6 separate regions of the Homo sapiens genome follow, and all the other regions are linked to region 6. The links come from fine-mapping of genetic effects on gene expression. A gene starts in region 6. Each other region holds a variant in brackets. All regions are shown on one strand. Distances are from middle to middle.

The links. PIP is the estimated chance that this variant, and not a neighbour inherited with it, causes the effect.
Region 1: its variant is fine-mapped to the expression of PLBD2 in sun-exposed skin (GTEx, PIP above 0.99).
Region 2: its variant is fine-mapped to the expression of PLBD2 in skeletal muscle (FUSION, PIP 0.95).
Region 3: its variant is fine-mapped to the expression of PLBD2 in whole blood (INTERVAL, PIP above 0.99).
Region 4: its variant is fine-mapped to the expression of PLBD2 in iPS cells (HipSci, PIP 0.95).
Region 5: its variant is fine-mapped to the expression of PLBD2 in whole blood (INTERVAL, PIP above 0.99).

What each region holds. Positions count from the first base shown.
Region 1 is chr12:113,385,212-113,389,966 of GRCh38, reverse strand. PLBD2 (phospholipase B domain containing 2) reads right to left here. Exons shown (of 12, transcript NM_173542.4): 9 at 4,684-4,755; 10 at 2,878-3,030; 11 at 2,061-2,223; 12 at 1-1,508. The coding sequence ends at 1,341. Among named protein-coding and RNA genes, the nearest start is that of SDS, 16 kb to the left of the region's middle. The variant G/A (reference allele first, on the strand shown) is at 2,093.
Region 2 is chr12:113,210,692-113,215,446 of GRCh38, reverse strand. All of the region lies in intron 1 of DRC10 (dynein regulatory complex subunit 10), which reads left to right. Among named protein-coding and RNA genes, the nearest start is that of DRC10, 8.0 kb to the left of the region's middle. The variant A/TA (reference allele first, on the strand shown) is at 2,271.
Region 3 is chr12:113,390,479-113,395,233 of GRCh38, reverse strand. PLBD2 (phospholipase B domain containing 2) reads right to left here. Exons shown (of 12, transcript NM_173542.4): 12 at 3,605-4,755. It overlaps SDS (serine dehydratase), which reads left to right. Exons shown (of 8, transcript NM_006843.3): 7 at 1,218-1,342; 8 at 2,085-2,789. The coding sequence ends at 2,293. Among named protein-coding and RNA genes, the nearest start is that of SDS, 11 kb to the left of the region's middle. RefSeq lists an enhancer at 1,821-2,020. The variant G/A (reference allele first, on the strand shown) is at 2,382.
Region 4 is chr12:113,433,973-113,438,727 of GRCh38, reverse strand. SDSL (serine dehydratase like) reads right to left here. Exons shown (of 8, transcript NM_001304993.2): 5 at 4,506-4,594; 6 at 3,172-3,399; 7 at 1,853-1,977; 8 at 452-842. The coding sequence ends at 649. Among named protein-coding and RNA genes, the nearest start is that of SDSL, 14 kb to the right of the region's middle. The variant G/A (reference allele first, on the strand shown) is at 2,739.
Region 5 is chr12:113,239,298-113,244,052 of GRCh38, reverse strand. All of the region lies in intron 2 of TPCN1 (two pore segment channel 1), which reads right to left. Among named protein-coding and RNA genes, the nearest start is that of TPCN1, 20 kb to the right of the region's middle. The variant A/GCACACACACACA (reference allele first, on the strand shown) is at 2,260.
Region 6 is chr12:113,356,424-113,361,178 of GRCh38, reverse strand. It overlaps PLBD2 (phospholipase B domain containing 2), which reads right to left and starts at 2,592. Exons shown (of 12, transcript NM_173542.4): 1 at 2,289-2,592. The coding sequence starts at 2,578. LOC105369989 (a long non-coding RNA gene) reads left to right here and starts at 1,669. Exons shown (of 3, transcript XR_945346.3): 1 at 1,669-1,849. RefSeq lists an enhancer at 1,334-1,833 and silencers at 2,169-2,228, 2,279-2,778.

The DNA.
Region 1 (4,755 bases), 29 kb before region 6:
TGGGAGGCCAAGACGGGCGGATCACTTGAGGCCAGGAGTTCGAGACCAGCCTGGCCAACATGGTGAAACCCTGTCTCTACTAAAAATACAAAATTAGCCAGGCATGGTGGCTCATGCCTGTAACCCCAGCTACTTGGGAAGCTAAGGCAGGAGAATCGCTTGAACCCAGGAAGCAGAGGTTGCAGTGAGCAGAGATTATGCCATTGCACTCCAGCCTGGGCAATAGAGTGAAACTCCCACTCAGAAAAAACAAAAACAAAAAAAAAAGAAGAAGAAAGAAAATGGACAGATGGAGATGGCTGAATGGTTGGATGGGTGGTTGGATGGGTGAGTGGATGGATGATAAATGGATAGGTAGATGGATGGATGGATGATGGAAGACGGATGGGTGGGTGGAAGGCTGTGCAGATGGATGATGGGTGAGTATGTTGGCAGATGAATGAATGGACAGAAGGACAGACAGAGGGCTGCACAGGAGGCTGCATGGGGGATGGCGCAGAACCCAAACCTGAGAGGAGAAAAAGCGCTGACCCCACCTTCCCTGCCACCCCAAGAAGCACAGCATGGGGCCACAGCCGCTCTTGTTTAATGGTGGCACAGCCTGCGGTCTGGTTCCTCCATCAGGGCGCTGTGGGTATGGCCCTGAGGTGAGGGGCAGGCCTGGGGTGGGGTGGGGTGGGGCCTGAGGCAGAAGCATGGGGGCTGACCCTCTGCCTGACATGGAGAGAGGACATTCAGAACCCTCCAGCCACAGATGGCCAGAAACTTTGGTTTGTGTTTGTTTTCAAGTTTCTGTCCTCAAGGAAGCTGCCCAGAAAGGGAGACGAGGGGACTGCTTCCTGAGGGAGCAGAGGGGCCAGAGCTGGGAGGAGCAATGCCAGCCGAAGACAACGCCCAGACAAAGCTCACCAGCTCCAGGGCCACCCGTGGGAATGCAGCTGGGAGAAGGGTGCTGGAACAGGCTCCTTCCACCCCATGGGAGCCCCAGAGTCTGCCCCAGGACCTTCCCAAACCCTCAGGAAGGAGAAGCACGAGGAAGGGGCCCCAGAGGTGGGAATGAGGTTGAGAGAGCAGCAGTAGGAAACAGACAGAAACAGAGAGTGGGAGATTTAGGGCAGGGCAGAAGAGACGCCACGGTGCCCACCCACCTCGGGGGAGAGAGGGGGTCAGTTCTGAGCCCCATCAGGTTCGTGACCCACTCTAGGAGGAGATGACTCAGACCCCAGATCAGAGAACGAAGCCCCCAGGAGGGGCTGGAGTTAGAAGTCCGGTGGCCTTGGGACGGGGGTGACCCTGACGAGGGTCAGCAGGGGCGAAAGCAGCAGAGCAGGGACAGAACTTCAGTCCCATGAAACCTTGACAGGCGCGAACTTCCAGAGGTCTGGCTGGCCCATGTGCAGCAGGCCGCTGAAGGGCGAGGTGCTCCACTGGAACGGGGGCACCTGGTCCCACGTGGGACCGCTGGCCGCCAGCAGGCTCAGGATCCTGGCCAGTGACATGCTGGTCACCTGGGGACAGGGCAGAGCCGCAGCTGAGCAGGGGTCCTGGCCTGCCCCAATCCAGGCACCCAGCCTCCCACCCTGACCTTGACCCCAGAGCCCAATTCTGAACTGTCACTTTTTTTTTTTTTGAGTCTCTGCTCTGTCACCCAGGTTGGAGTGCAGTGACGTGATCTTGGCTCACTGCAACCTCTGCCTCCCGGGTTCAAGCAATTCTCATGCCTCAGCCTCCTGAGTAGCTGGGATTACAGACGCCCGCCACCACGCCTAGCTAATTTTTGTATTATTAGTAGAGACGGGTTTTCACCATGTTGGCCAGGCTGGTCTCAAACTCCTGACCTCAAGTGATCTGCCCACCTTGGGCTCCCAAAGTGCTGGGATTACAGGCATGAGCCACCGTGCCCAGCCCATACTGTCACCTTTACTGTGACCCCAACCACAGCCCAATTCCGACTGTGATTCCTGCCCCGCCATCAGCTTTGCCCCAACCTGTCCCTTCCCCAAAGCTGGTGATGGTGACTTCCCCCACCCACAGCTCAGGCCCTAGGGAGGAGGCAGCACCTTCACATCGATACCCCCATGGGAGCGCTGAC[G/A]CAGGGCCTGGAAGGGGTAGGAGCCATTGGCCGGGTTGAGGTCGGAGCGGGCGGAGATAGCATTCTCCCCATTGGGCTGGGGGTTGCAGGCTTTGCACAGTGACAGAGGGTCATGGAGGAAGTCATTGTACCTGGATGGGGAAAAGGAGGGAACATCAGTCATCCCAGGAAGGAGAGGCTAAGACGGGGGCCAAAATCCTCACAGGCAGCCCCGTTAACAGCTGCCAGCCTTCAACTTGATGAGCCCCTCCCACTGCACACTACCCCCGACAGTTCCTCTGCCTGGGGCCCGGACCCCTTCACCTAAGTCACTCTGCCTTCATTATTCAGCTCTCTGCTCAGGCACTCATCCTCAGGGAAGGCCTCCATGCCACCACCCCAGCCAGGTGAGGCACCCGTTTGTTCCTGGATAGCCTCTCTTGGAACACAGCCATCTTTACACATTGACACCAGTGCAAGAACTTGATGGATTTCTGCACCGCCCAAGAGACAGGACAGTGGGGCACAGGTTTTCTACCTGTTGCTCCTGGTACCAAGCATAGTGCCTAGCAGTACAGGTCACTCAACAGATGTCTAGCATCCTCCCCTTAGCTATGAGGACAGTGACAGGGCCCAAGTGGAGAGCGGCCACCGAGCTGCTGCACTGGTGTCCAACATCTGACCACCCCCTGCTGGCCCTCTGGGGCTGGCAGCAAAGTTTGAATGAGTTGGTACAAAAAGCGCACAGGAAGTTCTGTGTTCCTGCGGCCTCCCTCTCCCCAACCCACCACCCAACTGGCACCTACCTCATCAGCCTGACCATGGAGTCCATGTCTTGTACCAGTGACTGGTTCCGCCGGAAGATCTGGGCCCGGGGGCTCCCGTCATAAGAAAACCAGTCCCCATACTGGGCCACTAGGGCCTGCAGCCCACTGGCATTGAACACAGTCTCGAAGGACCTGCCGGGGACAAGGATGGTCACCCATGACCCCCACTGGCCTCACTCAGCCAAGGCTGTGGCCAGGGAGGGGAGGGGCAGTCACACCAGGACATTATTACTTACAACTACGACATTCAGGCTGGGTGCAGTGGCTCACACCTGTAATCCCAATACTTTGGGAGGCCGAGGCGGGCAGATCACCTGAGCTCAGGAGTTTGAGACTAGCCTGGCCAACATGGTGAAACCCTGTCTCCACTAAAAATACAAAAATTAGCCAGGCACGGTGGTGTGTGCCTGTAATCCCAGCTACTCGGGAGGCTGAGGCATGTACTCACTTGAACCTGGAAGGTGGAGGTTTCAGTGAGCTGAGATCGAGCCATTGCACTCCAACCTGGGCGACACAGCGAGACTCCGTCTCAAAAAAAAAAAAAAAAAATTAGCCGGCGTGGTGGCACGTGCCTGTAATCCCAGCTACTTGGGAGGCTGAGGCACAAGAATCACTTGAACCCGGGAAGCAGAGGTTGCAGCAAGCTGAGATCGCACCATTGCACTCCAGCCTGGGCGACACAGCGAGACTCCGTCTCAAAAAAAAAAAAAAAAATTAGCCGGCGTGGTGGCACGTGCCTGTAATCCCAGCTACTTGGGAGGCTGAGGCACAAGAATCGCTTGAACCCGGGAAGCAGAGGTTGCAGCAAGCTGAGATCGCACCATTGCACTCCAGCCTGGGTGACAGAGCGAGACTCTGTCTCTAAAAACAAACAAACAAACAACAACAACAACAACAAAACCAACTATGACATTCGGGATAACAATAATGTCTTCCATTTGTGCTGGGGGGTGGCTTGGTGGGGTGGCCAAGCTTGGGCTCTGGGGCCCAAAAGGCATGGCATCAAATCCTGCCTTCAGTCCGGGTGTGGTGACTTATGCCTATAATCCCAGCACTTTGGGAAGCCAAGGCAGGCGGATCACTTGAGGTCAGGAGTTTGAGATTAGACTGGCCAACATGGTGAAACCCTGTCTCTACTGAAAATAGAAAAATTAGCCAAGGATGGTGGCTGGCGCCTGTAATCCCAGCTACTCAGGAGGCTGAGGCAGGAGAATCACTTGAGCTCAGGAGGCGGAGGCTGCAGTGAGCTGAGATTGCACCATTGCACTCCAGCCTGGGTGACAGGGCAAGATTCTGTCTCAAAACAAAAAACAAAAAACAAATCCTGCCTTCACCATTCGCCAACAGGGGAAGCTTGGGAAAGTGAGGTACTTTCTCAGGGCCTCAGTTTCATCATCTGTGAGATGGGAACAGGAACTCTAGTGACCACATGTGGCAATTTTAAGAGTCAAATGAGAAAATGCAGGTAAAGTAAGTGAGCCTCAGGAGGTGACAGCTGTACAGCCCAGTAAGGCAGATCCAGTCAGAGACCCTGGCAGGGGCCAGTCCCTGAGCCTGGCCACCCCACACCACCCTGCTCTGGGTGTTAGAACCAGAGGTCACATGGATGCTGACTTAAGCCATGCAACTACACTGCCAAACTGTCTGGGCTCTCCTGGCCAGAAAAGGGGGTAGGCTGGGATTCTTTGTTCTGTGGGTTTAAAAACATTGCCTAGGAAGGAGCTGGGCAAGGAGTGAGGTGGATGCCCTGGAGGGTGACGGGGAGCGGAGTGAGAAGGCACGCACGGTATGTTGTAGCTGGCCCAGTAGGTCTTCTGGTAGAGCTCCGAGGTCTTGTCAGCCACCACCACCATGCCG
Region 2 (4,755 bases), 150 kb after region 6:
TGGAAAAGCACATCTATTTTAAGAAACATTAAAGTGTTGATATTAACATAATTTTTGAAGTAGTACTAAAAGTCATAAAAGCGTAACACTTTTGAGCAAGGATTTCATTTCATTCCCTCAACAGTGCTGTGTCCCATTTCACAGGTAGAACGTCAAGGCTTAGAGAGGTTAATCGACTTACCCAAAGCCACACAGCCAGGAAGTGGTGAGACACTGGAATTGCATTCCAAATGTGTTTTTCGTTTCCACTTCAGTAATGAGGAAATGAAAGCCCAGAAGATCAAGTGGACTTGCCCAAGGCTATATAGCTTGTGGTCAGTGGAAAGTATTTCATCATAACCAGCAACATAGAAATCTGTCCCGGGGGGCATGTTCCCTCCCAATCTGAGTCACTATCCCATGTCCTCTGTCTCCAAAGCACCAGATAATCCTGGAGCCTGCAGCCACCCAGCCAGCATTACAAACAGGGTCCCAACTGTCAATACCTCCAGCATTCATTGCTGCAGCCCTAGCCTGGGAATCTTTTACAGACCAGTTGTAAACCATAAAACACAGGTTCTCAAAAAGAACAAGAGAGGAGGATTGGGTAATAGTTCAAAATTAGTCACAGAAAGAAAAAAAAAACCACTCAACTATGAAAAAGTAAAAAATTCATTACATTTAAAACTTTTGTTTAAAAAATTCCAAGCCCTGAGTAAAGGGATGCAAAAGAATTCATAGGCCAATTGTTGGCCTACAGTTCTATCATGAAAATATGACTCTCTTTTCTGGCTCCAATTCAGGACATATATATTTTGCAAAACAACATTATCCTATTATGCCAGCATCTCCCAGTGAGGAGACAAGCCTGTTGGTAAATCTGGGTTTGCCATCTCATTTATTCAACAGTGATTTCTTTTTCTTTTCTCTTTTTTTCTCTTTTTTTTTTTTTTTTTTTTTGAGACGGAGTCTCACGCTGTCACCCAGGCTGGAGTGTGCAGTGGTGCGATCTCAGCTCACTGCAACTTCCATTTCCCTGGTTCAAGTGATTCTCCTGCCTCAGCCTCCCAAGTAGTTGGGATTACAGGCATGTTTCACCACACCCGGCTAATTTTTGTATTTTTAGTAGAGATGTTTCGCCATATTGCCCAGGCTGGTCTCAAACTCCTGACCTCAGGTGATCCACCTGCCTCGGCCTCCCACAGTGCTGGAATTACAGGTGTGAGCCACTGAGCCCAACCGCAACAGTGATTTCTTTATTGAGCACCTACTGTATAGTAGTTGGTTGGGATAGCAGGTTTCATCATGAATCTGTTGCTTCTTTCTAGCCCCTCACTTTCCCCCTCCCTAGACTTGAAAGCCTCAGATAAAACATACAGAGTTCGGAAGAAAGCTAGAGGTTTGGAGGGTAGTGAGATCTTTCTGAGGCTAAAAAGAAAATTCCTCTTGAGCCCAGGAGTTCAAGACCAGCCTGGGCAACATAGCAAGACCTTGGTTTTTTTGTTTTTTGTTTTTGTTTTTTTTGAGACAGAGTCTCACTGTGTCACCCAGGCTGGAGTGCAGTGCTGCAATCTCGGCTCACTGCAACCTCCACCTCCCAGGTTCAAGCAATTCTCCCGCCTCAGCCTCCACAGGTGCCCACCACCATGCCCAGCTAATTTTTGTATTTTTAGTAGGGACAGGGTTTCACCATGTTGGCCAGGTTGGTCTCAAACTCCTGACCTCAAGTGATCAACCTGCCTTAGCCTCCCAAAGTGGTGGCATTACAGGCGTGGGCCACTGCGCCCGGCCAGAAGTCAATCTTAAAATCAAGAGACTGGACAGAATAGTGCTGATGGGGTGCAGGCCCTGTCACTTCCTAGCTGTAAACTAACTAGAATCATCTAACCTCTCTCTCTGTCTCCCTTTCTTCATCTGTGAAATAGAGGTAATAATAGCACCTACCTCATAGGGTTGTTGCAAGGATTAAAGGAATTAATTCGTATATAGCATTCAGAACAGTGTCTGCTACACAGTAAGTTCTCAAGAACTTACTTAGCTAATGTTAAAATGGTATTCCTTAAAATGAGATCCGGATGAGGATGGAAAAACTACCTATCAGGTACTATGCTTATTACCTGGGTGATGAAATAATCTGTACACCAAACCCCCATGACATGAAATTTACCTATATAACAAACCTGCACATGTAACCCGAACCTAAATTAAGAGTGAATTTAAAAAGAGAGAGAGAAATCCATTTCCCACACTCCAGTTGTTTTGGTTTTTTTTTTTTTTTTTTTTTTTTTTTT[A/TA]GCACCCTCTGACTTTTCCACTTGCCAGTTTGGATTTGTAGGGTAGTTGTTAAGTGTTGGGTTTTTTCCTTCTCTCCAGGGGGAAAAAATATATAATTTAGTTCAAATCTTTTTTTTCCTCAAAATATTCTAAGAGCAAAATTAATAAAATATCCAACAAGCCTGTTTGAATGAAGACGAGGTATAATTTGCATGATAAAGATATATTTCCATTTATAAAGTTCATCAGCAGAATTAATGACAAATAAAGGGAATATCCAATTAAAGTTTCCCATCCATTAACAATTTGCTTCACTCTCAGGGCAGGAATTTTAAACGGAGATGCTTAAGTTGGAAATGATTTAAATATTAAGGTTGGTGGCATTAAAAAGGACATGAAATGATCATATTAGGATTCAAGGAAAAGAGATTCTCCAGTCATTTTTGTCGTCAGAGTCAGATGCATTTCCCCTCAATCCTAGTTCCACGGGCTTTATCTTGTTCACCCAAATGAGCTGTCAAGAAATGATGGGTGTCATCATAATCAAAGAAAACAAGTTTGCCCTTTAAAGCAAAAGAGGTAATTTGGCTGAAAGCAAATTGGAAACATTTCATGTAACGTTGCGTTTCCAGCCGCACTCTCTGAAGAATTCAGGCATTTTGATTTATGCCTGAGAGCTTTGGGGTACAATGGAGAGGACTGCATTCATTAACTACCTTGTTCACATTCATCCTGTAGCCATGGGCAAAGATCCTTCATCCTCAGAGAGCCTGAGAAATCTCCATGGCTGTCCCTAAAACTTTTTTTTCACTTACAAGATAGGATCTAGGCTGGGCATGGTGGCTCACGCCTGTAATCCCACCACTTTGGGAGGCCAAGGTGGGCAGATCACCTGAGGTCAGGAGTTTGAGACCAGACTGGCCAACATGATGAAACCCTGTCTCTATTAAAAATACAAAATTAGGCTAGCGTGGTGGTGCACGCCTGTAATCCCAGCTACTTGGGAGGCTGAGACAGGAGACTGCTTGTACCTGGGAGGCAGAGGTTGCAGTGAGCCCAAATCACACCATTGCACTCCAGCCTGGGTGACAACAGCAAAACTCCAGCTTAAAAAAAAAAAAAAAAAAGAGGAGAGATAGGATCTCGCTCTGTCACCCAGGCTGGAGTGCAGTGGTGCGATCATGGCTCACTGTAGCCTCAACCTCCCTGGCTCAAGCAATCCTCCTGCCTCAGCTCCCCAAATAGCGGGGACTACAGGCACCTGCCACCATGACAGGCTAATTTTTTTTTTAACTTTTTGTAGAGGTCTCATTTTGTTGCCCATGCTGATCTTGAACTCCTGGGCTCAAGGAATCTTCCCTCCTTGGCCTCCCAAAGTGCTTGGATTGCAGCTGTGAGCCACCATGCCCAGCCTCCTAAAACTTTGTCTTCAGGAAAAGCCTCAAAGGATCTCATGAGATTCATTAGGGAGCAGGAAGTGTGTGTGAATCAAAGTGATTGAAGATAATTCCCAATCCTCTGCTCCCAAAGGGGCTTCTGGTTTGTTTTTTGTTTTTTTGTTTTTTTAAGAGACAAGATCTCACTCTGTTGCTCAGGCTGGAATGCAGTGGCCTGATCATAGCTCACTGCATCCTCAAACTCCTGGGCTCAACAAATCCTCCTGCCTCAGCCTCCCAAAGTGTTGGGATTACGGGCGTGAACCATGATACCTGGCCTGATATTGAATACATTCTGCCTTGCCAAGGAACTAAACATCCTTAGCACCTGATCTGGCCTGCCTTTCTTTTTCGTTCTTAGTCACTTTGGGTGTTTCTTTGATTCCCTGCCATTCTCTTGGTGTGTTCTTTGGTTTGGTGAGTTGAAGTTATCTTTTGTGGCTTCAAGTGTCACTTCCTTCTCCTGGGCAACATAGCAAGACCCTATATCTACAAAAATAAAAATACAATAATTAGCTGGGAATGGTGGCACGTGCCTGTAGTATCAGCTACTCGGGAGCATGAGGCAGGAGGACTGTTTGAGCCCAGGAAGTCGAGGTTGCAGTGAGCCATGATCGTGCCACTGCACTCCCTGGATAATGGGAAGGCCAAGACACCATTGTCCACTGCAGTATGGCAGCTAGAGCTCAATGAGTTTAAAAGTGAGCTCATTGTCCTCCCCTCCAAATGTCCTCTCCTCTCCCAATTTCTGCCATAGTTTCTTAAGGGCCCCATCTTTCTCTACCAGTCACCCAAACTCAAAACTCTTTCACTCAAGTCCTAATGATTCTTTCTTCAAAACATTTCTCACATCTACAGACAATATGAAAATAAAAGTGGCACAGGTAACCTGTAAGTAGTAACTTACAGCTTTCATTGGTGCTTACTTCTTAGGAGAGGGGGAAAGACAGACAATAAACAAATAAACAGGTGCATATAGGGATGTCAGATGGTGATACTTAACCTGGAGAACGAACAGGATAAGGGGGAAGAGATGAAGAAGAATCAGGGTGAGGGATGGGGATGTTAT
Region 3 (4,755 bases), 34 kb before region 6:
GCTGGGAATAGAGCTAGTGGTCACCCCAGGAAGCTGGGGACAGCGTCAACACATTGGTTACCAGTGCAGGTCTTGAAGTTATACAGATCCTGCTTGCAGCCCCAGCTCCAGCACTCCCTAGGTGTGTGACCTTGGGCAAGTGACTGTACACTCTCTGCCTCAGTTTCCCCTTTCCAAAATCAAACCAATTAACAACAGCAGAATTCTTGTGTGAATTCAATAATGCTTGTGAAGTGCTTGGCACCTAACACTTTCTCAAGAAGTACTCAGGGCGCTTGTTACTAGCAGGGAGGACTATTTGAGAATTCCACATAGGGCCGTGGGACTCAGTACTCTCCCAGGAGGACTCCTTGGAGGAGGTGGCCTTAATCCTGAGCCTTGAAGGACACAGCAGGATGTGGGCAGGCAGAGTGGTGCTAAGCTTCATGAGGGTTAACCAGGTAGCGGTTGTAACCCGGAGCAAAAGCAGGGAGTCCTAGCAGGGAACAACAAGGGTCCTCTTAGGCATTTGCTCCTGACTTAGTGTTGATCAGAATATGACGCTGTGCCGAGGCAGGAGGATCACTTGAGCCCAGGAGTTCAAGACCAGCCTGGGGTCGGGCATGGTGGCTCATGCCTGTAATCCCAGCACTTTGGAAGGCCGAGGGGGGTGGATCACCTAAGGTCAGGAATTCGAGGCCAGCCTGGTCAACATAGTGAAACCCCATCTCTACTAAAAATACAAAAATTAGCCGGGTGTGGTGGTGGGCACCTGTAGTCCCAGCTACTCGGTAGGCTGAGGCTGGAGAATTGCTTGAACCCGGGAGGCAGAGATTGCAGTGAGCTGAGATCGCACCACTGCACTCCAGCCTGGGCAACAGAGCAAGACTCCGTCTAAAAAAAAAAAAAAACAAAAAAACAACAAAAAAACAAACAAAACAAAAACCCGCCTGGGCAACATAGTGACACTCAGTCTCAAAAAAATTAAAAAAATGATACTAAAGAATATACTATATGATGTCAATTCAAACACTCTGCACCTTATTAGAAGACCCCACTTGGTTTGGGGATCCCTGAGGCTTTTCAGGGTTTTACAGCTGCAGAGGTGATACCTGTCCCCCTGCCCCCAGATGCATTGCCTTCTCTGTCTCACATCCATCTCCTTCTCTCCCTCCCTGCCCCCATCTCTCTCCTGTTTCCCCCACTCCCATCCTCTTCTGGGTTCCCACTTCTCTCAGTGTTGCCAAGGCCCTGGGCGTGAAGACTGTGGGGGCTCAGGCCCTGAAGCTGTTTCAGGAACACCCCATTTTCTCTGAAGTTATCTCGGACCAGGAGGCTGTGGCCGCCATTGAGAAGTTCGTGGGTATGTGCCAGGTCCTCCCATGACCTGACCTGCTGACTCAGGCGCTAAGTGGCTGTCCACTTGGTATGCCACTGGGGATCCCACTCACCCCAAGTTTCCTTCACAGTTCTGTCTTCCACCTCTGCCTAGAATTTTCCATTAATAGAAGATAATACAATGCCGTGTAGAAATAGAAAAGCAAAAGCCACACATAATGGAAAAGTAAATAGAAAAGTAAGCCTGATAACCATAGCAGCAGAAAACAATAAGTGAATATTTAAAATGTTGCTTCTGAGTTTCCTGGCAGCCAGGGTAAAAAAAGGAAAACATGGGGCTCAGAGTTTGATTCATTCAGAGGTGAGTCTGTAACTAGGCTGGACTCTTTCTGGGTTCCGTCTAGGGCAGGGATGGCAAAAAAGAGAGAAAAAAATAGTACCATTTATGCTTCTGTACCTGCTGCACACTTGGCTAATCAACCATGGAACTCTTGCTCAGATGATGCCTCAGAATCCTTCTCAACACAGTGCTCACGCAACCACACTCATTCTATCAGTGTTAGCACTCATGATGAAACCCAGGCCCTGGCTCAGGCTTGGAAGGGCCAATTCAGGCCGATGACGGGACGTTTGGTTCAGGACCTGCGGCTGCAGCCAGGGCTGAGAGCTGATTGGCTCAGTATTCCCAGGTCCTGCCAATGGCCTGTCAGCTCCTGTGCACCCTGGGAAACTCAGGCCACGCCCCTGTCACGCCCCTTCTCTGGCAGATGATGAGAAGATCCTGGTGGAGCCCGCCTGCGGGGCAGCCCTGGCCGCTGTCTATAGCCACGTGATCCAGAAGCTCCAACTGGAGGGGAATCTCCGAACCCCGCTGCCATCCCTCGTGGTCATCGTCTGCGGGGGCAGCAACATCAGCCTGGCCCAGCTGCGGGCGCTCAAGGAACAGCTGGGCATGACAAATAGGTTGCCCAAGTGAGGACGGACCCCTTACCGATCTGTGCTCTCCTAGCCCAAGAGACCCCTGGAGGGGCTGGAGTTTTATCCAGCGCCTCGTCGTATGTTTG[G/A]CTGAGCACCTGTGGCCTGGGTGCAGGTTAACTTCTTGTTATCAGGAGCCCACTATGCAGAGGCCAAAGGTCGGCAGCCAGCGAGGCTATGAATTGGACCTTTTTGGTATCTGTGTGACTGCTCTGTGCCCATCCTTAGCCAACTTGCTGGCGTGACAAGTGCCCACAAGTAACACACCAGGTACCCAGAGCAGGGTGGACAGGAGAGACCTGAATCACAGCAGTGAGGAATTCCTCAAAGCTGTGACCTCGCCCCTGAACTTGTTCCCAGTGAAGGTCAACAGGGCCACCAACCAGGGTTGAGGAACCATCTCAGCCATCCTCCCAGGAAGCCCACCCCTGACCCTTACTAATTTTTCTAATGTGCAAACTTTTTCATTGAAAAATAAAATATATTTATGAAACAAAGATCCTGTGCATTTTCCCATCATCAGCTGTCTCCTTTCCTGCTTTCCTTCCACCCCAAGTCTGCTCTCAGCCCCAGCTCTCAACTGGGGCCCCAGAGTGAGGCCAGGAGCCTGACTCCAGCTAGTCTTGCATGCCAGGACAGGGGCATCCCTGTACCACAGGAAGCAGGTGGCTAAACAAGAGGGACTTGGGGTGGGACAAAGGCTGCCTCCGCTGAAGGCAGAAGCAGCTGGGGAGGCCAACTTCATTCTGATATGAAGTCCTTCCTACTAAGTCAGAATTATTTCATCACAGACCCAATGGAAGCAAAGAAGTGAGGCCCCCTCCCCTGGGCGTGTGTGAGCTGACACTGGACACCCATCTCTGGGAGAGGGAAAGGGTGGGTGGACTTGAAGTCAATGTCATGCAAACCCTCCTCAAACATGGAGCCCTCTCTTCCAACAAAAGCATATGCTGAAGCCCGTATCATAGATCAAAGAGGAATTACTGGGGCTGGCTCCAGAGCATGGAGGGAACCCCACCCTCAGGGTACTTTCTGGATGACCCCAAGTTCAAACTGAAGTTTAAGAGTCACTCAGGGCTGGGCGCAGTGGCTCACGCCTGTGGGAGGATCGCTTGAGCCCAGGAGTTCAAGACCAGGCTGGTTGGCACAGTGAGACTCTGTCTCTACAAAAAGGAAAAATAACTTGAACCCAGGAGGCAGAGGTTGCAGTGAGCCGGGATTGTGCCATTACACTCCAGTCTGGCGACAGAGTGAGACTCCGTCTCAAAAAATAAATAAATAAATAAAAAGGAAAATAAGATAAAACCACAAGTCAATTCCCAACCCCAGACCCCAACCTTGCTTTATTTTCTCCACGGGTTTACCAGCACTGACACACTGCATATTTCATTTATTTTGTTTACTATCTAGTCAATGTAAACTTCACAAGAGCAGGAATGCTTCTGTCCCTTTTGTTATAAAGTATCCCCGGGACCTCATAACAGTGCCTGGCATGTACTAGGGGTTCAATAAGTGTTTGCTAATAAAGAGATGCTGAGTGCATGAGGCCCCAAGTGGGCTGCATCACATCCCCCAGGGAAACGCTGCTCACACCATTACCCCATTTCACAGATGAGGTAATCGAGGCTCAGAGAGGAGTCCATAGCTAGCTAATAAGAGGTGGAGACAGAATTGAAACCCAGGTCTCTGACTCCAGGGCTGTGTGCTTTCCTCTCTCCAAGCACACAGCACTGGGAGAGTCTTGTCTCCAAGGCAGGCTGCATGAGATCAGACAGGGAGAGAGCCTTTTTTTTTGTATCTGTCTGTATACCACAATATGGCTTAGGAAGGTCTTGGTGGTTAACAAGGCTCCCAAATAGGACCCAGAACACAGGTGCTCAATAAACATCTGGATGGATAGATGGATGGATGGATATGAATGAATGGATGGCTGATGGATAGAAAATAGATAAATATGGATGCATGGGTGGATATTAATGAATCTGCACAGACCCGTGTGTGGATGGATGGGTGATAAATGAATAGGTAGGTGGATGGACGGGTGGGTGGGTGGATGGATGAATGGATGGATGAGTGGGTGGATGGATGGGTAGATGGGTGATAAATGGATAGGTGGACGGATGAGTGAATGGGTAGATGGGTAGATGGATGGAAATGAACAGATGGAAATGGTTGGATGGGTGGATAAATGGTTGGAAGGATGGATGGATGGGTGAGTGGGTAGATGGATGATAAATGGATAGGTAGGTGGATGGATGAGTGAATTAGTAGATGGGTAAATGGGTGGAAAATGAACAGATGGAAATAGTTGGATGGGTGGATAAATGGTTGGAAGGTTGGATGGATGGGTGAGTGGGTAGATGGATGATAAATGGATAGGAAGGTGGATGGATGAGTGAATGGGTGGATGGGTAGATGGATGGAAAAACAGATGGAAATGTTTGGATGGGTGGATAAATGGTT
Region 4 (4,755 bases), 78 kb before region 6:
TTATGTGGTCTTGGGCAAGTTATGTAAACTTCCCGAGCCTCAGTTTCTGCATCTGTAAAATGGGGATGGTAATAATGGTTTTTACTTCCTAGTACCTTTGTGAATGTTAAAGAAGACAATGAGTAGAAAGTTCTTAGCAAAGTTTCTGGTATATAACAAGCACTGCATGAAGACTGGTGTTATTTTCCTCTCCTGCCTAGGCCTGAGAAGTGATAGAACATCTCCCTCTCCTTCCTGACCTGGTCAACCTGGGCTGGTCCTCCAGGTAAAGGAAGCCCATTTAAGATCTCATAATGGTTGGATTCCTTTAGAGACTGAGGTTTTCAAGTCTTGGCTTTGTTGCCTAAGATGGGGCTTGGAGTCACTTTATTACAGAAGTGGCAACAGGATTGTGGTGTGTCTCCTGTGAGCTCACTGACATGGAAAGATAGGATCCATAGCATTCGCAAACTCAATTCAGAAAGTGTTTATTGGCCGGAGTTGTCGGAGAGCCAAAAGAAGCAGTCCAGGAGGGCTTCCTTCAGGAGGCAGCCAGCACAGTTGCACAGGGCAGCTTCCACTGCCATCTGCCAGCACTGAGTCCTCCTCATCCAGACACAGGACTGTCCATGGGCCTCTCAGGGGTCTTTGGGGCCAGGATGGGACCCCTCAGACCTGGCCCAGGTGGGTTTTCAAAGCCTGCAGCTCTCGGCTGTTGATGTTGTTGCCTCCACACACGATTACCACAACTGAAGTCAGGGAAGGGGGCAGGCAGCCCTCGGCCTGGAGCCTCCGCAGGAGGCCTGAGTAGATGGCTGCTAAGGCTGCCCCACAGGCAGGCTCCACCAGCATACGCTCATCATCTGCCAGGATCGGGGGATGGAGAGAGGAAGGAAAGGGAAGAAGAACCACTCGGTGCTCAGCAGGCCCTGGGCACGGCAGATCCTTGCAGCCATCTCTCCAGCCAGTCAGCCATTCATCTGCTCTGCTGGCAATCCATCACTTGTCTCACGCTCTCCCCATCCATCAGCCTGGCCTCCTATCCTTCCACCATCCACCTTTTATCTCTCTATCCATCCATCCATTCCTCTATCCATCATTAGACTATCTATCTGTCCATCCATCAGTGTACCCATCCATCAACATATCCATCCATCCACCCATTCATAGCCATCCATCCATTCCTCTATCCATCATTTGACTGTCTGTCCATCCATCAACATGTTCATTAATCAATGTGTCTGTCCATTCATTCATTTCTATACCATTCATCAATCCGTCACTTCATTATCCATCCATCCGTCCATCCATCCACTGTCCATCTATCCATTACCCACCTTTCCACTCACTCATATATTCATCCCTTCAATCAACAAACATCTATTGAGTGCCTACTACCTGCCATGCCCTATGCCAGGAAGGCCCTAGGGACACGTCAGGGACTAAGACACACCAGCCCTCATGGGGCTCACATCAGTGATGTAGAGGGATAAGAACCAGGAGGTTATGAACACAGGGAGTGGTGCATTGGAGGTCCACAACCCAGGCAGCGTGGGGTGAGTGATCAAGGGAGGCTTCCTGAAGGAGGTGCTATGATGGCTGATAGCCCTCAGTCACATCAAACCAATAGGGAGCAGGGCCAGCCAGAGAGAGGAGCAGCATGTATGAAAGTCTGGGGGCTAGAGACAGCAAGATACACTCCTTCTTTATCCTCACCCCCTTCCATCTACTCGACGTGCACTTAGTGCACAGTAACTGCACACCTAGCCAGTGCCTGGTGCTGAGGATACAGATAAGACAGAACACACTCTTGCTAGAGGATGCAGGGACTTCGTGGGTCTCTGAGCCCAGGTGGAGGACAGGGATCACTCACCCAGGAGCTGCTGCACAGCGCTCACAGCCTCGGTGTCCTCCACCACTTCAGAGTGAATCTTGCACACCTGCATGCACTCCAGGGCCCGAGCGGCCACCGTCTTGGCACCCAGGCTCTTGGCCACACTGCAGGATAGAGCAGGGTGGGGCAGGGAGACCAGGGGCTCAGGGAAGAGCTGGTGAAACAGGTCTCTCCCCAGCCCCAGCCACCCCCTCCCATCCTGCCATGGGCTGGTTGGAGCTCAGCATTATAAGTCACAGAGGAGGTGCTCAAAAATAGTGTGTCCTTGCCGGGCGCAGTGGCTCACGCCTGTAATCCCAGCACTTTGGGAGGCCAAGGTGGGCAGATCACCTGAGGTCGGGGAGTTCAAGACCAGCCTGACCAACATGGTGAAACCCCGTCTCTACTAAAAATACAAAATTATCCGGGTGTGGTGGTGCATGCCTGTAATCCCAACTACTTGGGAGGCTAAGGCAGGAGAATCACTTGAACCCAGCAGGTAGAGGTTGCAGTGAGCTGAGATCGCGCCATTGCACTCTAGCCTGGGAAACAGAGTGAGATTCCATCTCAAAAAAAAAAAAATGCTCATCCACCAAGAACCTCAAAATGTGATCTTACTCGGAAATAGAGTCTTTGCAGATGTAATTAGTTAAATTAAGGTGAAATCATACTGGATTAGGGTGGGTCCTAAATTCAGTGATCATGTTCTTTTTAAAATTTATTGGCTTTTGGGGGGTTTGGGGGAGGACAGGGTCTTGCTAAGTTTCCCAGGCTGGAGCACGATGGCTATTCACAGGGACGATCATAGCACACAATAGCCTCAAACTCCTGGGCTCAAGCAAACCTTCCGTTTCAGCCTCCCAAGTAGCTAGGACTACAGGCGTGC[G/A]CTACCATGCCCAGGTAATTTTTGTATTTTTTTAGTAGAGACAGGGTTTCACTATATGTTGGCCAGGCCGGTCTCAAACTCCTGACCTCAAGTGATCCACCTGCTTCAGCCTCCCAAAATGCTGGGATTACAAGCATGAGCCATGGTGCCTGGCCTACATTTTCAAACTTATTTGCAACACACATGGATTGCTTTTGTAATGATAAGTCAATGAAAGCTTGTTTTAAGAACTGATTAGGTTTACATGAATCATATTCCTCATCTCCTTTTTCAGCACTGCCTTCTAACTCAGGTCCACTTTACTGTGGTTGGAGTCCCAGGACCAAGGACAGCCTTTTGGGTGCCCCCGTCTCCACCGGCTGGGACTGGAAGGCCCTAGGACAGTGGCACACCCACCCTCCAGCCCCTACAAATGTCCCCAGCCCTTACCCACCTGGTGATGTCTGGAAGTGTGACCAGCTTGCCGGCTGTGATGGCCGCATTGAAGCAGTGTGCCCCATGGGTCTCCATGGCAATGATGGGTACATGCTGCCAGCCCACCTCCAGCAGGCCAGCCACCACCCCGGCCAGGAGACCCCCACCCCCAACTGCCAGCACCAGGGCACCTGGTGGGGTCCTCAGCACTGCTTTCAGCTCCTGCACCAGGCTGGCGTGGCCTTTCCTGGGGAGGGGGGGTGAGAGGGAGAAGCAGAGTGAGGGAGGACCCCAGCCCAGATGGCTCCTGTGGTGGGGGAATTTACCAGGGGTGGGTTCTCTGCCCCCTCATATACATAAACCCCTCCCCACCATCCCCATCCCATCCACGGTGAGGGGAGAGGAAGTCCTGCAACAGTTACTTCACTCAGCTTCATTCATTCTCTTTATTTTTATTTTTTTGGATAGAGTCTCACTCTGTCACCCAGGCTGGAGTGCAGTGGCACGATCTCAGTTCACTACAACCTCCACTTCCTGGATTCAAGCGATTCTCCTGCCTCAGCCTCCCGAGTAGCTGGGACTAAAGGTGCGCACCACCACGCCCAGCTAATTTTTGTATTTTTAGTAGAGATAGGGTTTTGCCATGTTGGCCAGGTTGGCCTCGAACTCCTGACCTCAGGTGATCCACCCGCCTCGGCCTCCCAAAGTGCTGGGATTACAGGCGTGAGCCACCGCGCCTGGCCTCATTCATTTTCTTTATTATGTATTTGTTTGCTCATCCCTTCCCATCTCCATCAACCTCCCAGGCCCTTTCTTGGACATTATCCCAATTTAGCCCCCTCCCCAACTTTGCAAAGAGGCAATGGCAATGTGTGGTTAAGAGGGGACAAGTGTATCACTTGGGACCAGCCTGACTGCAGCCCTTTGTATCTGCCATGTACTTAGCTGTGTGATCCGGGGCAAGTTGTTTGACCTCGATGTGCCTCAGTTTCCTCACCTATGAAATGGGGATAATAGCACCCACCTCTAGGGCTTTGGGGAGGGTAAATAGAACAGTGCAGGAGGAGCCATTAGCCTGGTGCCTGGTCCCAAAGCACATATTCAGTAAAGGAGACTTGGTACTATCACTTCCATTTTACACACATAGAAACTGAGGCACAGGATCTGGGGTGCTTTGCACAAAGTCCCACAATTCACAAGGGGGCAGAAGTGGGATCTGAACCCATGTCTGCCTGGCTTTGAAGCCTCTTCTCCCCTCTGGGCCTCAGTTTCTCCTTCTGCCCAATGGGAGGACCCTGACTCAGTGAAGGTCTCCCAGCTCTGGACTCCTGGGGAGAGGGGCGTCAGCCTTACCATATTAGGGGGTGGTCAAACGGGGGGACATTCTCCCAGCCGTCCCTCTTGGCCAACTCTTGCGCCCTCAGATTGGCCTCGTCCCAGACCTACAGAGAAACCAAGGGCCCTCAGAACAGCCGGGAGTGGGACTGCTATGGAGGCCGGAGCAGAGGCCCAGGATCTCCTTGGTGGCCCCAGGATCTAGTAGTCTGGGGACAGCCCTGCAGATGAGACCATACCTGGTGTGGGCCCAGAGGCCTCCTGAGAA
Region 5 (4,755 bases), 120 kb after region 6:
GCAAGGAAGCGGAGAGCAGTTCTATAAATGGAGTGTGAAAGACATGGAAAGGCAGGAGGGGTGCAGATCAGAAACAGGCTTTTGGGAGTTAGGGGACAGAGGAGAATGTAGGCAGGGAGAGGGGCTGGGAAATGAGCACATCAAAATCATCGGGGGCAGTGACTGCAGCCTGAGATGCCCACTTCCTAACCGTCCACATGAGGAACACACAACAGACATCCTAAGGTTGCAAACATTGCCTTGAGAACACCTTTCTAAACTTTTTTTATTTTATTTTTATTTTTATTTATTTATTTTTGAGATGGAGTCTCACTCTTGTTGCTCAGGCTGGAGTGCAGTGGCACAATCTTGGCTCACTGCAACCTCCACCTCTCAAGTTCAAGTGATTCTCCTGCCTCAGCCTCCTCAGTAGCTGGGATTATAGGTGCCTGCCACCACACCCAGCTAATTTTTTGTATTTTTAGTAGAGACAGGGTTCACAAAGTTGGCCAGGCTGGTCTCAAAATCCTGACCTCAGGTGATCCACCCACCTCGGCCTCCCAAAGTGCTGGGATTATAGGGATGAGCCATGCTTTCCCATGGAGTGGGATTACAGGCATGAGTCTGTGCCTGGCCTCTAGTCTTAATAAATCACATGATAATTTTGGGGAGAAAAAGGGAGGATGTAGTATTTTTTTTTTTTTGAGACAGGGTCCCACTCTGTCATCCAGGCTAAAGTGCAATGGCACGATCTTGGCTCACTGCAACCTCCATCTCCCGGGTTCAAGTGATTCTTGTGCCTCAGTCTCCCAAATAGCTGGGAATACAGGCGCCCGCCATCAGGCCTGGCTAATTTTTGTATTTTTAGTAGAGATGGGGTTTCACCATGTTGGCTAGGCTGGTCTTGAACTTCTGACATCAAGTGATCCACCCACCTCAGCCTCCCAAAATGCTGGGATTACAGGTGTGAGGCACCGCACCCGGCCAGATGTAGTTTTAAAAGACTGACCACCTACATGCAAACACATATGGTTTAATTTGAGGAGACATTTATTCAGCACTTACTGTATACCAGGCATTGTGCTAGGTGTTGGATTAGAAAAGGTGAAACCATGGCCCTCGCCCTCATGGAACTCTCCATCAGTAGGTAATGAAGGATCGTGACTCTGGTGCACTGAGATCTAAAATGGGCTGGGATGACAAGGGCCCTCCGTGGGGGCTGGTGGCCAGTGGCAGGGAGGAACTCAGGGGAATGCCAGGGCTGGCATTTCAAGCATGAGGGATGAGGAGGTATTCACAGGGTGGATGGGGATGGGGTGAGTGGCACATTCTAGAAACAAGGATAGTCATTCAGAGAGCACAGAGACTTCAACAGCAGGGCACGTCTGAGAAACTGCAGAGGGTTCTGTAATTCTGAAGCTTAAAGTGCCAGAGACCAGTGACCAGGATGACGCAGTGGGCAAAGGTAACAGCCACGATTCGCATTCAGTACTTACCACACACCAGACACGGTTGAAAGGGCTTTACGTTAATTAATTCTTCTAAGTGTACAAAGGCCCTACAAACAAGACTTGATTATTATCCCCAGTTTACAGAGGGTGAAACTAAGGCCCAGAGAAGCTGAGTGACTTGCCCAAGGTCACAGAGGGAGGAAACGACGGGCAGCCAAGCCCTCACCTTTCCCTCCACTGTTTCCGCAAGGCTGGGGGTGTAGGCCAGGCGGAAAGCCATGCTGAGGGCCTGGACTTGAGCCACTGGGGACTAATGGTGTGGAGCAACCTGATCAGGTGTGCTACTTGGAAAAACACAGCCAAGGAGGTCAGTCCTGGCTAACTCCCTAACCCATCTGCAAACATTCTGCATGGGCAAAACCGCAAGTTCCTTTTCCCAGCACAGCCGTGGCCAGCTCACATTCGTGAGGCAGATTAAATTGCCAGGGGCCGCCACGGTCATTTTTATTGTCTAATCCTCCTTCCTGAGATGGAGAACTGTGTCTTGTCCCTACAGCATGCCCCCCGGTTTGCCAGATGTCCACGGGTAATTTCTTGGTGAGGCAGGACATGACTTCTTCTTTAGTCCATGAATTTCAAGACCCAACTTGGAATTGTACTTCCTGCTCCCATGCCACTGGGTTTATTATGAAACAAAGGGCTTTCCCTGCCACTGCTCACTCACTCACAAAGTATTTATTGAGTACCCGTCATGTGTAAAGTGTTTTAGACGCTTTAAAAAACATTTGTAAAGGCCCTATGCTTCCTGCTGTCTCATACACACACACGC[A/GCACACACACACA]CACACACACACACACACACACACACACACACGCAGAGGCACGCAAACGCCACTGTTTACCCAGTGAAGAGTACAGCACCTGTGCGAACATCTGTTCCATATTCACTTGGAAGCATCTGAAATGCTAATTGTGAAACACCCAGGGACAAGGAAGGGAGCCGGAGAAGAGCAAATGGAGATTAAAGGCATTTTTCACTGTGCACTGGTGCGCTCTGGTTCCCCTGCAAGAGGTCAGCAGAAAGCCAGTGCTCGGAAGAACAAGTTTGGCTTGAGACTCAAGCTGCATGAAGGCTACTGATGTGTCAGCTGATGGCATCCACTCAGCACAGATCAAAAGTCCGCTCTAGTCCTTAACCAGAAACACCTGGGGGCTGGCTGGACCCGGCTTCCATGAACACTGGCCACGCCCCAGCACCTGGATCTGCTGCTGCTGCTGCTGCAGGTGGCTTTGTTCAGAAGAAGAGTAACAAGAGGTGAGGCGGCCATGAAGCAAGCATGGGCACATTGGGGAAGTGACAGCTGGAGGACAGCTACATCCCACAGAGAGCTTGATGGCCTAGGCCTGCCACTTCTCCAGGGCCCTGAATTCCTATGCAGTCAATGGCCAGGCACTGCTTTCGGCCTTCCCTTCCTTTTGCTTCAGTTTCCCTTTCTGTTGGTGGGGAAGGCAGCCCAAAAGGAGCATTGTGAATAAAGGAAAATACAATGGAAATCAAGAAGCCACCCTAAAGAATGAGCAGGAGTGGCCAGGAGCGGTGGCTCATGCCTGTTATCCCAGCACTTAGGGAGGCTCACCAAGGTGAGCAGTTCACCTGAGGTCAGAAGTTCAAGACCAGCCTGGCCAACATGGTGAAACCCCATCTCTACAAAAATACAAAAATTAGCCAGGCATGATGGCAGATGCCTGTAATCCCAGCTACTCGGGAAGCTGAGGCAGGAGAATCACTTGAACCTGGGAAGCCGAGGTTGCAGTGAGCCGAAATTGTGCCTCTGCACTCCAGCCTGGGCAAGAGTGAGACTCTGTCTCCAAAAAAAAAAAAAAAAAAGAATGGGCAGGAGATGGAGCTGCTTGATTTTTAATTCTCCCTGCAACACAACAGGAATGGTAGTCAAGGAAGTTAACTACTGTCCCTCAACTGCTACAACACTTCAGAAAATGCAAACTACCAACTCACATCCCTTAAGAGGAACCGGAAGAATGTGAGAACGGAGGAAAGGTTCACATCCTCAATGCAGAAAGTCCTTCAATTACCTACTCATGGGTTGAGACTCTGACTGTAGACAATCATATACTGATTTTACAATGAAGAAACTGCAACTTAGGAAAAAACAAGCTCAGCTCCTCATTCAAGGATGTTCAGCTATCAAGAGACGATGCCAGAAATTCAACCCCATCCTTTGCAGACTGCGCGACACTCAGAAAATGTTCAACCGTTGTAGACACCAGCAGGTACCATCACTCCTCAATAGACACACATTCATCACAGCCTAAGAATCTCCCAAGCCACCTCCATTTATAGACTTCTGTGTCCCCATACACTCTGGACGGCGTCTGGTCTCCAAGAGGAAATAGCAAAAAACAACATGCAACAAAATCAAATGGGCCAACTAGGCTGGAGGCTGAGTGGACTTTAGCACTCATAAAATCTGCGCCCTGTTGAAGCTACCAGACTGGCTCGAGGCTGTGCAGTAAAAACTGCAATTCCAAACAACCAGGCAGGCCAGCCAAGTGTGAACAGCCGAGCCCGCAAGAAGAGAGGCCCCTCGAGAGTCACAGAGAGAAGACATCATGCTTGTCGACGACCACCCACAAGTGAAAGGCAGCGCAGCCGGCAGCTTGGAGCAGCTCCAAGCCATTAGCCAGCACTAAGCACAGGTCGCTCTGCCCAAGCTGGTTTTCAGCAAGTGCTGAAAGAATTAGGAAAAAAAAATAATAAAATCCCAATCTAACAAAAAGAGAGATAAAAAAGAGAGACAGGCAGTCTACAAATGGTAGGGCGGCGACGGGGAAGCTTAGATGGAAGGAAGGTTGGGATTGGACATGTGTGGGCTCCTGGGGAGTTCGAAGCTGGAAGCAGAGACCCAAACATCCAAAAAGTAGGCTGTTCCTAGGGGCAGCAACGCCATGCCCTGCTGGGCTACTTCTGGTCTGATCACATGTGAATGAGTCTCCTTGTCACCCTCCAGTGGCTCCAGGGGCTGGTTTAGCTGTGACAGTCACCTGGGACCCTGGATGTTTTTGGAAACCGGTGACTCACTCCCAGATATGCAACTTCTATTATGTCTATTATTGTGCCCAGAATATGTGTAGAAGAGACATGATCCCTGCCTTTGCAAAACTTGTACTACCAGAAAGAGGCACAGCTGTGTAAAACATCAGCACCTAAAACAACAGCCATTAACACCCAGGCATTACACTGGGTTAGGCCTCTACCTTCCTGCCCTGCCCTGCCCAGTCATCTCAAACAGGCATCAGGGAGACACAAGAAAGAAACT
Region 6 (4,755 bases):
CCCCACCCTCCGAAATAAGACACAGAGTCCCCCACAGATCAGAGATTCTGCTGATCAGGAGCCAGGACACCCCCTATGGCTTTCTTTCATCTGACCCTGAGTCCTCAAGCAGCTGTCTCTGAGGACCTCAGTTTCCTGCCTATAAAATGGGGCTCGCTTTATGGTTTTCCCTGCATCAGAGCCTCAAGGGCTGGCAAACTCAAAGGGAAAGGGGCATGTGAGCGTAAGAGGAGGGGATGAGAGAGGGTGCCGAAAACAAGCCAGAAAGTCCAAGATGGGCAGATCACCTGAAGTCAGGAGTTTGAGACCAGCCTGGCCAACATGGTGAAACCCCATCTCTACTAATAATACAAAAATTAGCCGGGCATGGTGGCACACACCTGTAATTCCAGCTACTTGGGAGGCTGAGACACGAGAATCGCTTGAACCCAGGGTGGGGAGGTTGCAGTGAGCCAATATCGTGCCCCTGCACTCCAGCTGGGCAACGGAGTGAAACTGTGTCTCAAAAAATAAAATACAAATAAAAATAAATAAACAGTGCTTTCTGTGACCCCAGTGAATTTCCATGACCCTTTTGGTCCTACCTTGATATGAGGGAACATGCTCAGAGAGGTGAAGGGATTTGCCCAAGGTCACACAGCAGAGGGGCTGAGCCTGGAAGAACTTTCCATCCAGCACAATCAAGGAAGCCTTCTCTCCACTTCCATGTTTACCATAGTCAAGAGCAACACAGCCCAGGAGGGGCCTCCAGAGGCCAAAGCCCCCTCCCCATGCTGGGCCTCGCTCCTGCCCCTCCTCGCCTGAACAGTTCTGTCATGTCCTCTTGATTCTGCTATGCAGGGCCAAAAACATGAGTGAGTCAGCAAAGAACGGGTCACCAGATCCAAGAGTCCCGGCAGCCCCCGAGGCCAGCCACAAAGCTTCAGTTCCCTCCACAGATGCCAGCTCACTCTGTGGCCTCCTCTCTCTGGGAGCCTTCCCAGATTTACCCCAACCAGTGCCCCTGTGTCTGTGCAAATATCTCCCCCAAATCTCACGTCTACTTGATGTACCCCCCAAGTGCCACCAGAATGGGGGTGTCCTCGGCATCCTGTGTCTCCCTAACACCTGCAGAAGCCAATGGATGCCAGTAAAATGGATAGGGGCTAAAGTGGGAGGAGGCCCTTTCTGCTGCAGGGGGCAGTGTGGTCTGAGCACAGACCACATCCTGGGCACATCCTAGTGCTAGGGTTCCCTAGCATCATCTGGACACTAGGATATGACGGATGCACCCCGGGTTCCCTAGGATCCCCCAGCACAGCCTGATCCAGCGTCTGGGCCCTGCTGACAAGGCTTTGAAGCTGATCCTTCCCACTCCCACTGACTCTGATTTCTCTTCTATCGCTGTCTGTGTTTCCCACTGAGTAGAGACAGCTGCTCAGCTGTGTCCCTAAGGCCAACCATCAGGGTAATGAATAAATGAATGGGCACAAGCCCTTGTACAGAACTTGCAGCACATGACCACCCAACTAGAGCACATCCTCAAAATCTGGGCCACAGATGGGGAAACGGGAGCCCAGACAGGCGGAGGAGTTAGGTGAGACTCACACATCAGAATGACAGCCTGGGTTCCAGCAATAAAGATGGTGAGCATGGCTGCCAAACACGGCATCCAGCCAAGGACTTCCCCTTGGACCAGGACACAGAAGACAAGGGAGGAGCAGAGCCCTAGCAGGATACTAAATGGGTCTATGTGACTTTAGGGACCCTCTGCTTTTGGACTAGCCTGGAACCCAGGTTCAGTCCTGCTGACCTGGCACTGGAAGGGAGGCAGGGTGCTGGCACCCACGAGCAAGCCACAGCCAAGCAGGTAAGAATTAGTCTCCTGCTGAGTTCTCATCACCCCTCAGGCCTGGGGACAGGGGGCTGGCCTCCATGGGGTGAGGAGGCAAAGTCTAGGGAAGGGAGCAGGTCCCCGTGAGGATAGAATTTACCCACCAGCCATGGACCTGATCCAGATGCAGGCACTGCGGCCTCGGTGGTAGGGAACTGGCTTCTTGGGGACAGAAGTACTGTCACCACTGGCTGAAGGCAAGGGACTGGCCCCATGAGGTGAGGGATGCCGCAGTAGCCAGCTCCCAAACAGGGTACTTGGCCCGCAGGGCGGTGCTGCAGCCTCGGGAGTAGCTGACCCCCAGAGAAACGGGCGTTCCCACCCGGCAAGAGGCCGGTCCCGGGAACAGGCGAGGTCCGGCGCCCACGCATCCCCCTCCCCCGATGGCCCCGCGTGGGGATAAGCCAACCCTTACCCAGTCTCGCGGATGGCGTTGGTGAGGTTGGCCCAGGCCACGGCGTCAGGGTGGCGTCCGTCCACCATAAGCAGCTGGCCCGCCGAGACGTCCAGGAGCACCGAGCGGCTGCGGGAGGCTGGAGGGACCTGCCCATCGCGCGCCCAGCGGCCCCCCGGCGCTGGGATCGCCCCCGCCAGGCCGCTCAGGAACGGCCCGACCAGCAGGGCCAGCACCAGGGCCAGCGCCAGCGCCCGCGTCAGCGCCCGGGCCAGGTGGCTGCCGGGGTAGCAGTACATCTGGCCCACCATGACCGCACAATGCTGCGCCCCGCAGCCCGGGTCACGTGACTGCGCTCTGCCATGGGCGGGGCCGAGGGCGGGCGGGGCCGGGCTTGGGCTGAGCCTTTCCGGGATGGGAGGGGCTGGCGCGAGGGGAGGCCTACGGGGCGGGACCCACCTTAAAGAGCCCGGCCGCCCCTTCCACCTACGCAAACCCGGTTTAGCACACTTCCCCAAGTTTTTTTTTTTTTTTTTTTTTGAGACAAGACAAAACCTCCATATGTCGCCCAGACTGGAGTGCAGTGACGCGATCTCGGCTCATTGCCACCTCCGCCTCCCGGGTTCAAGCGATTCTCCTGCCTCATCCTCCTGAGTAGGTGGGATTACAGGCGCGCACCACCACGCCCAGCTGATTTATGTAATTTCAGTACAGACGGGGTTTCGCCATGTTGGCCAGGCTGGTCTTGAACTCCTGACCTCAGGTGATCCGCCTGCCTCAGCCTCCCAAAGTGCTGGGATTACAGGGGTGAGCCACCGCGCCCGGCCAGATTTATTTAATGGTATTTGCCATTTATTTAATACAGTTATCTAATGCAGTCTTTATTCCAACTTTTCCCATTGTCCCTCAAATACCCTTTTTACATGTGTGTGGGAAAAAGCTGTCTAACTACTACTCAAAACCTAGATGCCGTCGGGCGCGGTGGCTCACGCCTGTAATCCCAACACTCCAGGAGGCCAGGGCGGGCGAGTTCAGGAGTTCAAGACCAGCCTGGGCAACATGGTGAAACCCCCGTCTCTACTAAAAATACAAAAAAGTAGCCGGACGCAGTGAGGCGCGCCTATAGTCCCAGCTACTCGGGAGACTGAGGTAGGAAAATCACCTGAGCCCGGAAGGTCGAGGCTGCAGAGAGTCGAGATTGCACCACTGCACTCCAGCCTGAGCAACCAGAATGAGACCTTGTCTCAAAAGAAAAAAAAAAAAAAAAAAACCTAGATGCAATAAAAGATTAATGCATTTGACTGTATAAATTTTTTAACTTTTTCATGTCAAAAAACTCAATAAGCAAAGTCAAAAGACATCTGACAGACCAGGAGAAACTATTTGCAACATATATCATATATATACATTACATATATATATGTATATATATCTCAACATATATCATATAATATATCAGGAACTCTTAAAATTTGAGAGGGAAGGCCAGGTGAGTGGTTCATGCCTGTAATCACAGCACTTTGGGTGGCCAAGGTGGGAGGAATGCTTGAGCCCAGGAGTTTGAGACCAGCCTAGGAAACCTGGCAAGACTCTGTCTCTATAAAATATAAAAATTAGCTGAGCTTGGTGGTGCACACCTGTAGTCCTGTTGTGGGAAACTGAGGAACGGAGAGACCAATATGAGAGAACAGGAGGATGTTTATTTCAACGTACGCACTGGCTCAGTGGATTCACATCCAAAAAGCTGAGCCTAGAACAAAGATATTGTGGGGTTTTTATAAGCAAGCTTAGAAAGGTAAAACAAAAGTAGTTAATCATATAGTGCATAACTTGTGGCCTTGCATAGCTGGTGGCCTTGTAGCTGCATCAAAAGTAAAACAAGAACTGGCTAAATAGAGAGGTTTGTAAAACATAGTCATGCTTAAGAGACCAAGGAAAGGAATAGCAATAAAATAATTTGTCTTTCTCTCTTTTTTTTCCTTCAACCTTGCTCTGGAGGCGGGCGGTGGGGTGGAGGGCGGGGTCTGGAGCCCAGTCCTCTGGCCTTGGCTTTTCGGACAGCGTTATCTTATAACTGTCCTTGAAGTGAGCTGCTAAGCAGAGGAAAACTTGTTCTTCTTCTTTTTTAACCCTTGCCTTGCCACATTCTGGGCCTTAGCTCTTACTTCTCTTGGAGTGAATATATGTAGTACTTATTATTATTATTATTTTAATTTCTGCCTCAGTCCCAGCTACTGGGAGGCCGAGGGGGGAGGATTGCTTGAGCCTAGGAAGTCGAGGCTACAGTGAGTTGCACTACAGCCTGGGCAACAGAGCAAGAAGTTGTCAAAAAGGAAAGAGAGAGAGAGAGAGAGAAAGAGAGAGAAAAGGAAGGAAGGAAGGGAGGGAGGGAGGGAAAGGGAAGGAAGGGAAGGAAGAAAGGAAGGAAGGAAGGAAGGAAGGAAGGAAGGAAGGAAGAAAGAAAGAAAGAAAGAAAGAAAGAAAGAAA